Linked DNA regions of Homo sapiens: region 2 is linked to region 1. Evidence: fine-mapped expression QTL. A gene starts in region 1. The other region holds a variant in brackets. All regions are shown on one strand. Distances are between the middles of the regions.

Region 1 (8,337 bases):
AAAACAAAACAGAGGATGAACTTGAGATTGTACCTCCTCAAAAGTCCATTCCTAGAGGATGTTTCTTCACCAATATATTTCCCAGCAAAGAGAAAGACCACCACAACAGCAGCAGCATTAAACAACTTTAGTGGGAGAAAACAGACAGATAGCAAATACAGACCAGCCCAAGCTTTACAGCTACCAGTCTGGTTATTTCCAGGAAATATCTTTAGCTAGAGTTTTATTTTACCAGTAAGCCTAAAACCTGCTTCTATATGTGGCTTCAAAAAAAATCTACAACCTTATCCGCCACTTAACTCCTGGCATACAACTCTTAGGAAGAGTCATTATAGAGTTTAGATACTGCAAGTTCCTAAAGCAGTTCCAGTATAAGAAAAGTCATTTCAAAATAGTCTTAGATGTTTCCCTGAGTTCAAAGAACTATACAGAAGTCAGCACAGGAGCCATGGGTATGGTAAATGTAGCCCACACGTTTGAGGGCCATTATGTACCAGGAAGCCAGAATGTTTACATATTTCAACTCCAACTCCTGACTAACTCCTCGTAAATCATTCTTCCAGAATGATTTAGTCTTATATAATTTATAACTGCGGTCCAACCATGTCTTGGAACCACAAAAGTATGAAAGACTATCTTTACCAGGAACAAAACAATCAATAATTTTGGGAGAAAGGGAACTTATCCAGTCCCAGAAATTAAACTTCAATATGAAATGACTCTGAAGGGCTTTCTGCCCACTGAAATCCTCTCCAGGCAGACCTGTGCTCTGGCTGTCTTTGCACATTTGCTGTGTATGTGTGACAAGGCCATTGGCGGTACTCTGGACTAGCTCCGGATGTTGCACCCAAGGACCCTGGAAGTCAGGGTACGACCAGGTTGATGAGCAATCATCCTATTGTTTAAAGACCCTAAACTGAAAGCCTTCATAATATGCAGGGTTGTTTCCTGGACTGGACACTCCTCTACCCCTACAATTACAGTCTGCATTCATGAACTACCCCATAGAGCCTTCATGATCCATAAACATTTAAAAGTTTTCCTTTTAGAGAGAATGAAAAAAATGTGAGAGTCACTGGTACAGGAAGGACCAAACAATTGGGTCTCTGTGGTTTTGGGGGCCTAGGTCATCCAGGCCTCTATTCAATTGGCAAAGAATCTGGCGGGATGAATCAGTCTAGCAGCTGACAAAACGATGAGGAAGGGCCGCCCAAGCTGATGGCAATTCAAAAAGGCTTTCAAACAGCTCCTTAACATGTGTCTTATGAGCTTTATTTAAATTTGATGGAAAGGCCACCAAATAGTTCTTTCAAGCTTCAAAATCTCCCTTCTGATCTGCCAATCTTTACGGAAGAAAAGGGAAGCTATGAGGAATAAGTGTTATCTTCATCACTGAGAGTGCTACACAGCTATGCGTCGCACACAAATTCTCCAGTATATAAGCTTGCCTATTCCCATGTTGTCCCTGCCTAGAACAATGGCAAAATGCAGCCTAGGGCAAGTTGAGGGTATTGCTGAATTCTCAGCTGGGTAAGCACAGCATGGAGCTATCAATTTAAAGCAAAACCAAATCAGCTTTTTGCTGATGTCATTTTACCAATAATTCCAGCTCCATCATGCAGTCTATTACCAGAGTAACTTGACTTCCCTAGGCAACCTACGAAGAAGTTGCTAAGCAATAAAAATACTTATTAGGGAGAGGAGAAAGTCACAATCAGCACAAAGTTTAGGTAGCTAGATAACTGAAAGCTGGCGCTGCCACTTCAGGGTGACAGTGCCAGATACTGGAACAGAGAAACCACATAAAAAGGACTTCCATCCTAGAGTCCCTTCTCCACACAGCAGCCCAGGGAGCCTTTTACAAAAGAAGCTGAATCACAATCCCTCTGTTCAAAGCTCTCTGTTGTGGGCTGAATTATGTCTCTCAAAATGATATGTTAAAGTCCCAACTCCTAGTACCTATGAATGTGACCTTATCTAGAAATAGTATCTCTGAAGATGTTACCAAGTTAAGATGAGGTCAAACTGGATTAGGGTGGGCCCTAACTTCAACGACTGGTGTCCTCACAGGAAGGGCACGGTAAGACAGATACATAGGGAGAAGATGGCCATGTGTTGAGACAGAGACTGGAGTTCTGCTGCCACAAGCCAAAGAACACAAAGGATTGCAGACACCCAGCAGAGGCTAGAAGAGGCAAGGACAGACTTCCTGGAGCCTTCAGAAGAGCAAGGCCCTGCCAACACCTTGACTTGAGACTTCTGGTTCTGATTTCAATTATCCAGGACTGTGAGAGAATAATTTCTGTTATTGTAAGCCGCTAAGTTACTCTGTTATGGCAGCCCTTGGAAATGCATATGCCCTCCAGTGGCTTTCCACCTTACTGAAAACCAAATCCTCACTGCAGCAGCATCTGGACCTCCTCTGACCACGCTGACTTCAGCTCCTCCTGCTCTCTGAGTAGTCAGTCCACACTGACCTCCTGGCTGGTCCTCAAACTGTACCATGAACCCTCCACCTTACGGCCTCCCTGCAGCAGGCTGGTGCTGTCAGACCTTTGCAGATGCCACTCCTTCTGCTGGAAGGGTTCCCACCTCAGGAACCTCCAAGGCCTGCTCCCTCAATCTGCCTTCAGGTCTCTGTTCAAGTCACCTAATCATGAATGCCCCCACTAACTCCCCTTCAGCCTTCCCTATCCCCACTCCATATTCCCTATTCTCTTCCCCTGCTTTATTTTTCTCCACAGTGCTTCACACAAGCTGACATAGATATTTTGCTTAACCCTTCACAGGTTCTCCCTCCACAATGTTAGCTCGAGAGAGCAGGACTTCACTGCTGAATCACAGTGCACTCTATTTAGTAAATAAGCATATGAATTCTGTTGGGATAGGTGAAATTTTATTCTGAACTGGCTGTGTGACAAAAAAGGTTTCTACTAATTAAGTGAGACAACGGAAGCTCCTGCAGATGAAGGGCTGGGCTCTGAGGGGCTGGGAGGGAATCCATGTGCCAGGTTTTCCTAAGTAGACTGAAGGGCTCTCACCACATCCCTGCATGGAAGTGGGCGAGGTGAGTGATTCCGAAAAAGCCTCTTAAGAACCTCCCTATCAAAAATTAAGTCAAGTCTTACCTGTAATTTTTGTCTCCAGCCACACCCCAGTAGAAAGCAACTTAGCCTGAGGAATTTGTGAAGTCAAATATAAACATGATCTTCCTACTTCATTACTATACATATTTTTTTAGGGGCTGAGGAGAAAGGCCTAGTAGGAATGTTTGATAATGATAATCTTATACTGCAAATGCACAAACTCTACTCAGAGGAGAAAGCCTCGATCACCACACCCCTAAAAATACATAAGCCAGGAGGTTTCAAACAGCTCTTTCTTAGTCAAACTCTCTTAAATGGTCCTAAATTTACACTTTTTTCCTTCCTTCATTGATATTTTTCAAAACTTTTGAAACAAAACAGGCAGGAAAAATGCAAGTTTTTCTTTACCTTGGCTTTTGGCCCCAGGTCCTGCCAATCCGAGTGATGGATCACAGGACTCCTTGAAAGGTGATCGGATCGGGGTTTCAGCTTCAGGAGTCTCAAAATTACCTTCAGAATCCGAGCTGCCAAGGAGGAAAAATGAGGAATTACCACTTTCAACGGTATTTCCGACACCCTTTGAAATCTACATATTCACAGAGGCTAAAAGTCCAGCACTTTTGTCTAACTTCACAACCAACCGGTCCTCAGCAGGGTCTGACCTGCGGGAGGCAACTGCGGTCTCTGAGCAGTGCCCTCCTTGGGTTTCTCAGGCTGGCATCCTGTCTCTCTGAAAGCTCCTCCATTCCCTGGAGCTTTTCTCCAGCACCATTTATTTTCGAGGTCATCCTTCCCTCAGACACCTGAAAAATGCGCTTTTCCAACAGACTCCTTTTGTCACAAGAGCCCTTTCCCAGAGGCTTTAACAATTAATACTGGTCCCACCCCCGAGTTAGGCCGATGCTAGGCATTCCTCTTTGCTCGGTAGGCCTCTACCTGCTGGAACTCCCTGGGCCCGAGGCTAAGAATGGTGTCACCTGCCTTCCGCAATCACGCGGATGACAGCCCGGCAGAGACCACCATTTCCCAGCAGCTGCCAGGGGCCTGTCATCACGCGACCTTCTTCACCGCGGCTGCGTTTTGGGTACACGGTAGGGCCCCGGGAAGGGCCGGGGAGCGACTTCTTCCCCACGGGGGGGCCCTAAGTTGCACTGGGTTAGATCAGTGACGTTGCTCCAGTGTGGAGGGGCGGGGGCTGGGGGTCGAAGCTTAGAGAAAGTGACCGAGGCCAGCGGGGATGCGGAGAGACTGCAGATTCTGGGTTGGGTGCGGAACTCTCCTAGCGAAACGGGGGCCAGAAACCCCACGGGAGGACAGAAGATCCTGAACTTTCGGACGCACACGGGGACCCGGCTCCGGGCAGGGACGCGGCACGGCCGTGAGGACGGTTTCGCGGGTGGCGACCACACACACGCACACAGAGGGAGTCGCAGATGGATGGAGGCAAGCGCGTCTGCATCTCAGCGGGGACGCCGTGTACTTGCCTGAAACTCAAGGATTTGGTCTCGGCTTGCGAATCCTCCTCCTCGGGGTCGCCCTCGGGCCCGCCAGCCTCGTCCTCGCCGGCGGCCCCGCCGCGTACCGCAGACCACGTCCATTTCGCCCACTGCACGGGGGACAGGATCTGCCACGGGCTGAACGCCATGAGCGCGGCTCCTCCGGCTCCAGCTCCTAGGGGCAGGGGAATGGGTGGGGAGAGCCTTTTTCCCTTTCAAAATGGAGGGAACCGGTGACAGGCGCCAGCAAGCGTTTCCAGCAGAGGCGCGGATGTGGTTAAACGAGTGCCGTCGGGGGCCCTGGTGGAGCGCTTCCTCCCGCCGGCAGCCGGCGCTGCGTCCTCCTCGGCCTCCTCCCCTCACGGTGCGGCCGCAGCGGGCCCCGCGCCGGGCTCCACTAGCCGGGAAGACGCCCGTCCTGTGGCCTCCTCAGGCCCCCGGCCCGCGGCGCCCGGCTGCTAGACCTCTGCTGCTCCCGCTCCCGGCTCGCGGACTCCCGCCTCCCGGCCGGCGGGGCGCGCATCAGCTGCCGCCGGAGCCGCGCCCCAGAAGCCGCCCCCTCGGACCGTACTACTCGCGCGCGCGCGCGGGGGCGGCGGCGGCGCCGGGGCTTTGAAGACGGCCGCGCGCCCGCCGGATCCCCCTACCGCGGCGTCACGCTGGTCGCGGCCCGACTGAGGGCCGGGGCTTGCCGGCTGCGCGGGGAGATTCGGTCATACCCCACAGGTCCGCCGGCGTCCGGGGCAGAGGAGGACCGTTTTCTGAGCCGGGGCACGCTGTCCTCTTCCTCTTTCCTTATTCCTTTTTAAAATTTTTTTAAACATTTTCATCTTGCCACTGTGACTTCACGGCGATGGTGATATTGGACTGCACACAAGCCCCTTGTTACCAAAAAAAAAAAAATACAAACCTTCGCGGCCGCTGTGGACTGTTGTTTTCCCCTCCCTAACCCTGGCAGCGTGGGGGATTTCAGCCTGTTCATCTCCATCCCTGGCATTCCCGGGATTTGAAAATCCCTTGGCAAAGCCACAAGAGTGACCGAGGACTGGAATTTAAGATGCCCTCCCCCTCCCCAAACCGCACTCGGGGAGGCTTCCCAAGTGCCCAGGTCTTGTCTTAGGTAAAGGGTACTAAATTCCCTGTGAGATTACAGCCTGATGGGTTTCCCATTCTCCATATTTATTTATTTAAAATACAGACAGGCGTCTCGATATGTTGCCCAGGCTGGTCTTGAACTCTTGGCCACAAGCGATCCTCCCGCCTCTGCCTCCCAAAATGCTAGGATTCCAGGCCTGACACCGCGCCTGACCCCATTCTCCTTTTTGAGATTTTCTTTTCGTAACTTCTAAGTCTTTGATTTCTGACTTATTTCGCTGCTTCAGTAACAAGCCAAGAGGCCTGGCGACATCTTTAGGTTTGAAGGCAATGGGAAATAGCTGATGTTCTCCATTTCCCATGGAGGGATTTCATGTAGGGATTGTTCCTCTCAAAACCACCAAAGCACCTTCTTCCAAGTGAATCGATTGCCTCAAACACCAGGCTTAATGATCTCCTTGCCTGGATAAGGTGTTCCAGGTGGTACTGTAATTTCCGAGTTGTGGTGCATCCATGAGGTGCCTGCAGGTTCCCACAGAGACAGCAGCTCCAAAATGTGCACGTTGAAACTTGCAAGAGACTAACCGTTGCCTCTGAAAGCAGTTGGCATGTATATTCATCGTGACTGTTTTACACATTTGATAACAAAAACAGGAGCAAAATACAAGATAAGGCTTGGCAGGGTAGTTTTACCAAAACCGAAGGGCAGGAGTTAACCTGAAGTCTAGAGAAAAGAAAGGGGTGGGGTGTCAGGATGCTTTCGAATTCATCCTGGCTTCTTCCCAGAAATAAATTGTCATGAGTGTTCTAGCGACTATAAAGAAGTGAACTAGGCAGGAGGTCCATGTGAAATATATCACACCACTTATCCAACTGTTGTAGTTTTAGGTTTATGCTTACCCAGTAAAACTTCAGGTTCTACAGTCCCCCAGGCTCCTGGATTTGACACAGGGTTCTGTTTCTGGGAAATAATATTACCCCAGCAAATCAGTAACTAGCATACACTAGGACCTGTTCTTCCTCCTGAATAGTTCTCTTATCTTTTCATTCCTTTGCATCCCTGTGGTGACTGACATAGTTCCCGCACTCCCCATCTTTCATGATCTACTGTAAATAACTCCCACCTGGTTTTACCTCTGAAGGTTTTCTTGCCTGAGGTCACCCCTGCCTGGCTGATCAGTGACTCGTGCTCTAATCTTTCGGTTCCCATTCCCCTCTATGCCCATCCTTTTGTATTCCTAGCCACAGTGAGTAGAGAACTCGTTGTCAATCTTTAATATGCCCAAGAATCATCCGCCAGCCTTCTTAAAAAAATCCAAATTGCCAGCAGAGTCTGGAAATCTGTGTGTTCACTAAGTGTCCTGGGGAACTGTTATCACAGGGTAAATTTGGGAAACAGTGCCTAGCTTGAACCAACTGCTTACTGCTTCGGGAACAGTCTCCCTTTGCCTGCAGAGGGAGCTTTGCGAATTCCTGGAACACACCTCCTCCCCCACCCCAGCCCACCCCAAGTTCCCAGGCTTCAGCTGCTCGAACGTCCTTCAGCACTTAGCTCAAGTGTCTACAGGGGGAAGCAGGCTCATTGTCCTTCCTTTCTATCATTTCTATACCCCGAACATCCATAAAGAACACTTCCTGTGGCCTTAGATCTGAAAGTGAAAGACAGCATTCTTAATAGTTACACAGGGACTATAGGCATAAACCAGGACTGTCTCCAGAAGACCAGGATGTAAGGCCATTCTACACTTAGCACACCATATATAACATATTTATTTACATATCTGTCCCACAAGCTTCTAAAGGGACTTTACCCCCCTTTGGGACTTCCTCCAGAAATTAGGACAGAACCACACACTCAGTAGGTGTTCAATATATATGTAAGAAAAAACAAACATTCTAGTTTACAAATAGTCCTTGTGAGTTTGGCTAAGGTGACATAAATTCCTAAAGCCTGACTCCCCCTGGGGAAATCTAGTTTCTGGGCCAGAAAATAACAGAACCCAGGACCAAGTGATGGCCCCAGTAAGATTAAGCCTCACCTATGCAGCAATTTACTTTTTTTTTTTTTTGAGATGGAGTCTCACTCTGTCACCCAGGCTGGAGCACGGTGGTGCAGTCTCAGCTGACTGCAACCTCCGCCTCCTGGGTTCAAGCGATTCTCCCTGCCTCAGCCTCCCAAGTAGCTGGGATTACAGGTTCCTGCCACCATGCCCAGCTAATTTTTTTATTTTTTAGTAGAGACGGGGTTTCATCATGTTGGCCAGGCTGGTCTTGAACTCCTGACCTCAGGTGATCCACCCACTTCCAAAGTTCTGGGATTATAGGTGTGAGCCACCGCACCCGGCCTGCAGCAACTTCTTGAGACTGGACTAGCAAATAAATGCCTAAGGTTTCTGAAAATCACTCCTCTGCAAGTTCTTGAACTTAGTGTAAGCAGTAATGAATATGAGTCCATTAGCTGGACCACTCCTCTCAGTCTGCTGCTCCTAGTCCTGGCTTCGTTCTTACCTGGTACAGGTTGCAAAGTCACAACTAGGAACACTCTAGCCCTGTCAGTGAAGACGTGCCATTGCCAACAGGAGGCTGTGGCCACCCTATCTGCTTTTCTGCCCTACCTCAGTCTAACCAGGCAAGGGCATGATGATGTCTAATCAAGACAA
Region 2 (8,337 bases), 52 kb before region 1:
CAGCACATAAAAGTAAATTTCTGAATATCAAAAAACACTATAGGTGGACGCAAAAGACAAATGATAAACTTGAAAAATTATTCAAAATTCTTATCACAAAGGGCTGGTGTCCCTAATATATAAAATCTATAAAATGACAATAGGAAAATGGGCAAAGAATAGAGTAATTCATAGTAAAGCAAATATATTAATAAATGAATGGTGAAATATATTCAATTTCATTCATAAGATAGATGCAAATCAAAATTACATTGATTAAAATAAATGCTCTGGGGCTGGGCGCGGTGGCTCACACCTGTAATCCCAGCACTTTGGGAAGCTGAGGCGGGCGGATCACCTGAGGTCAGGAGTTCCAGACCAGCCTGGCCAACATGGTGAAACCCTGTCTCTACTAAAAATACAAAAAATTAGCCGGGTGTGGTGGCGTGTGCCTGTAATCCAAGCTACTTGGGAGGCTGAGGCAGGAGAATCACTTGAACCCGGGAGACTGAGGTTGCAGTGAGCCTAGATTGCACCGCTCCACTCCAGCCTGGGTGACAGAGAGAAACTCCGTCTCAAAAAATAATAATAATAATAAAATAAATAAATAAATGCTCTGTTGCTTGCCAAAAACAAATACCTATGTTGAAATACCATTTTCACCTATTTGATTTGCAGAAAATAAAAACGTTGACCTATTGGCACAGTTGTAGAAAAAAGAGATGCTCTCATATATTATCTAGGGCTATCAAATGATAAAAGTCTAATGGGGCCAATCTGACAACACTTATAATTATAAATTCATATATGCTTTGGTCTAGCAATTCCTTTTCTAACATACAGATCATAAAGATAACTCACAGGCATGCAAAACGATCACCTACCAGGTCACTTATTACAGCACTGTCTGTGGCAGCAAGACATTTGAATTAACTTTAATGTCTAACAGGAGGGGATTGTTAAATAAATGATACATTCCAACAATGGAATACCATGTGGCTATTAGAAAAAAAAGAGGAAGCTCTTCTTGCACTGACATGGAAAGATTCTCAAAATTATATTGCTAAGCAAAAATAGCGAAGTATGCTATAATCATATAAAAAAGAAAAAAATTGTAATAGGAAGAAAAAACAGAAACCAACAATGGTGATTACCTGGCATAGAGAAAGATGGGAACCCAGTGGAAGGAGGCAGGAGCAGATATACCTTTTTTTACTTTTTAATGTTTTAACAATGGGAAAAGGGTTTAAAAAGTGAAATAAACACACACATAAAAATACAACCTGGAGTTGCGAAACAGTGATTTTGTTTTCCTCTCTCAATCTTCCCACAACATCATGAAGAGTGAAATTCAACATTTACAAGCTCTTACTTGTCCAGTTTCTCTTCTGCGTGGATTTTCAGGGCCTGGTATCGCTGCTCCTCTTGTTTAACTCTGGCTAAGTAATCCTGAGCACATTTCTTCAAGGCTTCTTCATTCTGTTCCAAAGCAAAAATTGAAAATAAACAGGTCATTTTGTTTCTTCTAATCTACCACATATCAGAGTTTTCATTTTTTAAAGAATGGAAAAATCTAATTAATTCAGATGGCTTTTATTCATACTCTGCAGTAATTTGAAATAGCCACATGTAATTCTCACTGAGGAAATTCTACATAATGTCTTCATGTGTTAATTTTCAATATCATACAGTAAGGGTCAGTTATACCAATATGCCTACTTTAGGAAGGCAGTTATTCAAAACTGAATGGCAATTCGATTTCCATATTTGATAAACTGGCCAGTTTCATTTTTATTTTAATATGAAAATAAAGCCATTTCATTGCTATAATTGTGTCTGGTTGATATGGTAAAGTTAAATTAAATCAACAGGCCCATTTACATCTAAATTTGAAACATTATACTAATGTCTTCTAGAATATGCAGCTTGAATTTTTCAGAGACATGGAATTCCTTCTAATCCCTTTTACTAAAACTGAAAAGGTGAATTACCAGAAAGAACATTTCTAGAATTCACCTGAGGTCTGAGGGTTCAATTAACAGTTCTTGCAGTCTACGCCACAGCCTGGGGCTTATTGGCTTGACACAGGAGAGGAATGGCCAAGACATGGCACCCAGTGGGCCAGATGCCTGAACAACCAAAGAAGGAAAAATGTGGAAAAAAATCCAGCTTCACTGGAATAGAGGATACAAGGCCAGTAGGCCCTGAGCTCCTATTTAAAAGGATACCCACAACCTCTGGCATATGTATTTGATGACCAGTTACCAAGGAAATACACTACTGGAAATACACCAGGAGACAGAGGGAAAAAACACTCTACCTTCTTGAACCCTTCCAGAACACCTTTCAGGTTCTCATATCTCCTGAAGAGATCAGAAAGGGACCTTTCCACAGAGTTAAGGTCAGCCAGGGCCTGTTCCTTCTCCATGGTCAGTTGCTGGAAGCTCTTCTGAGAGGTCATACTTGTCCTTTGTTCATCTTCTGGGAATCACAAGTCAAAAGGAATGACATATTTATTCAAAAAATAGACACTCCTTAGAAGACAAGCAGTGTTCTCGTGGTAGGGACACAGCCGGGGATGTGACCAAATTCCCGCTCTTATGGCTTATACTCTAGTTGGGGGAGACGCGTGGTAACAAGTGATGGGGAAAGAACAAGGCAGGGTAAGGAGGAATGGGGGCGGGGAGGGGGCTGTTACTGTACAGAGAGTACCTGCTCTCAGGGAGAGATCTGAGCATAGACCGGACAGAAATGAGGATGTGAGCCATACAGCTACCTGGGAGAATATTCCATAGAGAAGAACAGCTGTGGTAAGGCCCTGAGCTGGGAAGGCATTAGGTGATGTGGATGATAGAAAGTATCATTTCGGCAATTTAGTGGAGAAAGGACAGACTCTGGTTTAGGGAGTCAATCCTTATGATATAGATGAGAAGAGACTCTAAATTCCATGCAGGAGGATCAATCCCTGTTGTTTTGTAAAGGCACCGCTGGGTCTGATGCAGAGAAATTACAATCTGCACTAGAGTAAGAACCCTGCACCAAAACACAGGATGCTCCCAGTGGGTGTTAGTGATGTGACCAGGCCACCAACAGTCACAGAATTCAAGGCCTGCCATCTTCTAAAATGAACCTAACTACAGTTGACCCTCATTATTCACCAAGTCCATACCTCCCAATTCACCTACTTGCTAAAATTTATTTGTAATCCTAAAATCTATCCTCCTGGACTTTGACAGTCATTTGTGGATGTGTGCAGAGTGCAAAAATGCTTTAGTCACCTGATATGCACGCTCTCAGCTGACAGTGAACAAAGCAATACTCTGCCTTCTTGATTCATTCTATAAACAAGTGTTCTTCTTTTGGTCTATTCAGGCCATGTTTGTTGCACTTGTGTTCTTTTTGCCGGAGACTTCACTGTTTTAAGTGGCCTCCAAGGGCAGTGCCACAGTGCTGTCTAGTGATACCAAGCACAAGAAGGCAGTAAGGTTCCTTAAAATACATACATTACAGAAGCTCTGTTCAGACGTGAGCCAAAGTGCCGCTGACTGTGAGCTCAATGTTAATGAATCAACTATATATATTAAATAAGGTGTCTTTAAACAGGAACACACGTAAAACAAGGTTATATACTGATCAATCAATGAAAATGTTGTGGCCAGATGCAAGACTCTAACTCTGTCTTTTCCCTAGGAGCAGTGTTTATTTACTTATTTATTTTTTGAGATGGAATTTTGCTCATTGCCCAGGCTGGAGTGCAGTGGCACGATCTCGGCTCACCATAACTTCCGCCTCCCAGGTTCAAGCGATTCTCCTGCCTCAGCCTCCCGAGTAGCTGGGATTACAGGCATGCACCACCACGCCCAGCTAATTTTGTATTATTAGTAGAGACGGGGTTTCTCCATGTTGGTCAGGCTGTTTTCGAACTCTCAACCTCAGGTGATCCACCTACCCAAGCCTCCCAAAGTGCTGGGATTACAGGCGTGAGACACCATGCCAGGCCAGGAGCAGTGTTTAGTATTCACTAACTCAGTGTTTGCAGCAACTTTACAGAACATACCTCCCACGAATAATGAGACGACTGTATCTAAGTGACAGACAAATACAAGTTTGTGACATGGTCTGAAAATCATAAATGGATCCGGCTATGGTCTTATAGTTTATGCCACCCCCCAACCCCAAATTTGTGTATTGAAACCTAATCCCCAGTGTGTGAGTATGTTCAGGGTGAAAGTGGGCATGGAAGGGAATTTGGGAGGTGATTATGTCAGGATTAGTGTCCTTATAAAAGAGACCCCAGAGAGCTAGCCAGCCCCTTCTATGAGGAATGGGCCCTCCCCAGACATCTCATCTGTGGGCACCTTGAACTCTCCTGTCTCCAGAGCTATGAAAAATGTTTGTTGTTTATAAGCTACCTAGCTTACATATTTTGTTATACCAGGCTGAACAGACTAAGACAGATCCTATGGCTCATACCCTCAAAAAACAAAATGTTCTCCTTACCAATCATTTGAGCAATAGTCTTTTCATATTCAGCTACAATTTTCCTAAATGAGAAAAAAAGAACTTATTACCAGAGGAGGATTTTCAGACAATGAAAGTTGGAGAAATGCTGTCCCAAACAATTAAACACATTAACATACACTGACAATGTATGTAATCCATTTATCTGCTTTGGGGCTCTCGTTATCTTTTTTTTTTTTTTTTTTTT[A/TA]CATTATATAAGGTTTCTTAAGGTTCTAAAAAGGTTTTTGTTAAGATTTTATCTTTAGTCAAACTTATATTTTACTTATAGAACCAACTGCCTTCCCTTTCTCTTTGCACCTATTTGAATACTGCAAGGAAATAGATTCATTCTGCTTAGATGAGTCAATCTTTTACAAACTAAGTTAAAGATATTCTTCTGGGCTCTTCCTAACAGATGCGATCTGACTTTAGACTTTCCTGAGTCAATCCACCCTTTCAGACACTCTACCTCTGATTCAGTGACAAGTTTTATTTTGTGTCCTAATTCCAAAAGTATTTCACTTATTCAAAGACTTTAAAGATCAACCTCTTGGGTTAACCTTTCTTCTAGTGAAGAATGACAATGTCCTTCTGACCCAGTCCGGTGCTGGGTGCTCTGTGAGTCGCATCACGTCCTCCCCTGCCCTCAATGGTGGTGCCCCCATCACTTTTGACGTCATATCCAAGTTGGTTATTATGGATGGCTACCGCTCTCTAAGAGCAGGAATGTCCCTTCCTTTCCATCAAGCCCAGCAAAGGGCCTTACACCTAGGAAATGCTTAAAAGACAAATAATAAAAGAGCAACAAATTAGAGGGATATACTTAAAATGTTTTTTAATCATTCAAGTGTTGACCACACTGTGTGTGAATTATTTATGCCTTTTTTTCTTCTCTACTTTGATTTCATCTTTAGTCATTTCATGGCTCATAACTCTCCTTTCTAAAAGTGAGGAAAAATAAAAAGATTTCGATTTCAAGTCAATCAATTTTGTTTCTTGTTAACAAGCTTTCTATCATCTATTTGGTGGTTATGTAATTTGAAACTCTCATGCATAATTAATTTTTAAAAAGTATTATGGACCAGGCGCTGTGGCTCATGCCTGCAATCCCAGCACTTTGGGAGGCTGAGGCAGGTGCATTGCTTGAGCTCAGGAGTTACAAACCAGCCTGGGCAACAGAGCGAGACCTCATCTCTAAAAAAAATTATGCAGGCATGGTGGCACATGCCTGTGGTCCCAGCTACTTGGGAGGCAGAGGGGAGAGGATCAGTTGATCCCAGGAGGTTGAGGCTGCAGTGAGCCATGATCACACCACTGCACTCCAGCCTGGATGACAGAGTGAGACCCTGCCTCAAAAAAAAAAAAGTAGTATTATGAATTTCAGTGTCTCTATCATTGGATAAATCTTATTTTTCTGTATTCCAAATGGATATTTTGATACAAATTTCTGTCAGTTCTAAGAAGATAAGAATTATGTGGGTTCTGTTTACATGTTATATGTTCTGAACAACCCAAGATAAACTACAGTATTTGAATATAATAACTGGTTAGCAATAACTCCTGAAATAACATTCTCAATCACAAAGCAAGGTGCAAACAGCAAAGCCCTCAAGCTCTCAACACTTGGTTCTGTGGCAAGCAAACACTGTCATCACTTCATCTGTATCAAATCTAACAGTGCATAAAAGTATCCAGCCCCTCCCCAAAACCTCCAGTCTAACCTCATCTCCAAAACTTCTTGCCGGGTCTCTTCGTATTTCTTCTTCCATTCATTTGCTTCAATCTCTTTAGTAATTATCTAGAGTACAATAAAGCTTAGTTTTACCCAATCTATTACAATTTGCATTTAAGACTGGGAACTGAAATAGCACACAACCAGGTCTAACCCAAGATGTTCAATCTATATTAGAAATATAAACTTCAATATTAAATGTTTGTAACCATTTGGAAAAGTGTATTCTAAGCCACACTGAATGCTGGGATGCAGACACGGGAATAAAGATGAGTAGAACATCTCTCAGAAATCCCAAGTAGTATTTACAGCCTCTGTGAACTTTACCTTGGTCCAGGGTCTAGCTCTCAGCTCTGCAGGGCCAGGCCCTGACTGGGACAGACACCAAGAACAGAGCCATCTGATTGGCAGGTATTCACTCTTAACTAAGGCCATGTAATCACGGCTGATGCCAGGCCACCAGAGTGAAACTGCCACAAAGTCAGACCACTGGAAGTTGGCATGAGCAACACATTCTCTTTCTATAGAGATTTCTGACAGCTTCATAGAAATGGAGTCAGAAGGAGGGGGCTCAGATGAGCTGGCTACATCTAGCTATAGCATCCGTCACTTATGGGTAGAGTCTTGCTAGTTAGCCTGGAACCTAGGCTCATATTTGGGATGCTCTTGCTAACTGGAAGGAAATACTCTAAATTCATTGCCTCAAACTCTATTTGCCCTGGGCTGGGCTTGCATGGGCAGCCTCTTACTGTACTTCCCTGGCCGTGCCGCTCTCTTCCTAATTGGTAGTTTCATTATATTTATTAGGATCTCAAGAACATAGAAGGATGTATCCTGTGTGCTTCAGGTAATCAGGCACCTCTTTACTTTGATCCATTAGGTGGTGATCTCATAGTTTAACTCCCAGGAAAAACATCAAGTCATTTTTCTCATTTACAAGATTTTGGCCAGGGACAGTGGTGCGTGCTTGCAGTCCCAGCTACTCAGGCAGCTGAGGCAAGAGGATCGCTTGACCCTAGGAGTTCGAGGCTGCAATGAGCTATAATTGTGCCACTGCACTCAGCCTGGGTGACAGAGTGAGATCTTGTCTTTTATTTTATTTTTATTTTTCTGAGATGGAGTTTCGCTCTTGTTGCCCAGGTTGGAGTGCAATGGTGCGATCTCGGCTCACCACAACCTTCGTCTCCCAGGTTCAAGCGATTCTCCCACCTCAGCCTCCCAAGTAGCTGGGATTACAGGCATGCACCACCACGCCCAGCTAATTTTGTATTTTTTTTTTTTTTAGTAGAGATGGGGTTTCTCCACGTTGGTCAGTCTGGTCTCGAATTCCTGAACTCAGGTGATCCGCCCGCCTTGGCCTCCCAAAGCACTGGGATTACAGGCATGAGCTACTGCGCCAAGATTTTATCTCAAAAAAAAAAAAAAAAAAAGATTTTGGTGGGCCTTATTACCACTGCTCCCAAGTTTTGAAAACAGGACTAGCTGACATCCCTCATTACCAACTTGATGCTATTTTAGAAAGCTGTAAAAGACCTACAGCTGAGGTGCTTAACCACTTTCAGCATACTATAAAAATTAAAACTAAAAAAAACTATAAAACTAAAAACTATAAAAATAAAATTGCCACACCTTCCTTTAAGAACAGGTGGAATTGTCAAGAAACACACAAAACAAACACACAAAATACAGCATAGATATATGACAGGAGAGGGTGGGCAACTTATTAATGGTACACAACAGTGTCTTTCGTATTTTTCAGATAACCAGGAAAGGCCTAGCAGTGATCTATTTTGAACAAAGGCTGTTCAAGAAACACAATACAGGAATCGGAGAGTTGAACGGTTTAAAGAATGGATGAAAGTAGGAAACAACTGTGTATTACTGCAAAAAAATTACAAATGTTTTTAGGCATTAGCATATATCCTCTGTAAAATAAAAGCACTGATTTAGTTACACATGGGAGCAAAGCTGGCAAAATTAGGTATTTTAAATGTCAGGGCTGAAAGATAAAGAAGGGTACAAAATTCTTAAGAATATTTCAGATTGTCAACATTTTACCCTGGAGACCAGAATGTCAGGACTCCAGCACCACTGCCACAGGGGGCCCTTTTACGACCTAAACAAGC

Direction of the effects. Positions count from the first base shown, and alleles are read on the strand shown. Sizes are in standard deviations (SD) of each study's normalised expression.
With allele TA in place of A in region 2, the expression in naive CD4 T cells of the gene that starts at base 5,078 in region 1 is lower (large effect, 0.90 SD a copy in Schmiedel 2018).

Evidence for each region. PIP is the estimated chance that this variant, and not a neighbour inherited with it, causes the effect.
Region 2: its variant is the best candidate, but not a certain one, in a credible set for the expression of TACC1 in naive CD4 T cells (Schmiedel 2018, PIP 0.65).

The regions. Positions count from the first base shown.
Region 1 is chr8:38,783,977-38,792,313 of GRCh38, reverse strand. TACC1 (transforming acidic coiled-coil containing protein 1) reads right to left here and starts at 5,078. Exons shown (of 13, transcript NM_006283.3): 1 at 4,571-5,078; 2 at 3,495-3,610. The coding sequence starts at 4,731. RefSeq lists a silencer at 4,815-5,354 and an enhancer at 5,395-5,474.
Region 2 is chr8:38,836,410-38,844,746 of GRCh38, reverse strand. TACC1 (transforming acidic coiled-coil containing protein 1) reads right to left here. Exons shown (of 13, transcript NM_006283.3): 8 at 6,201-6,277; 9 at 4,480-4,523; 10 at 2,300-2,460; 11 at 1,352-1,458. Among named protein-coding and RNA genes, the nearest start is that of TACC1, 53 kb to the right of the region's middle. The variant A/TA (reference allele first, on the strand shown) is at 4,688.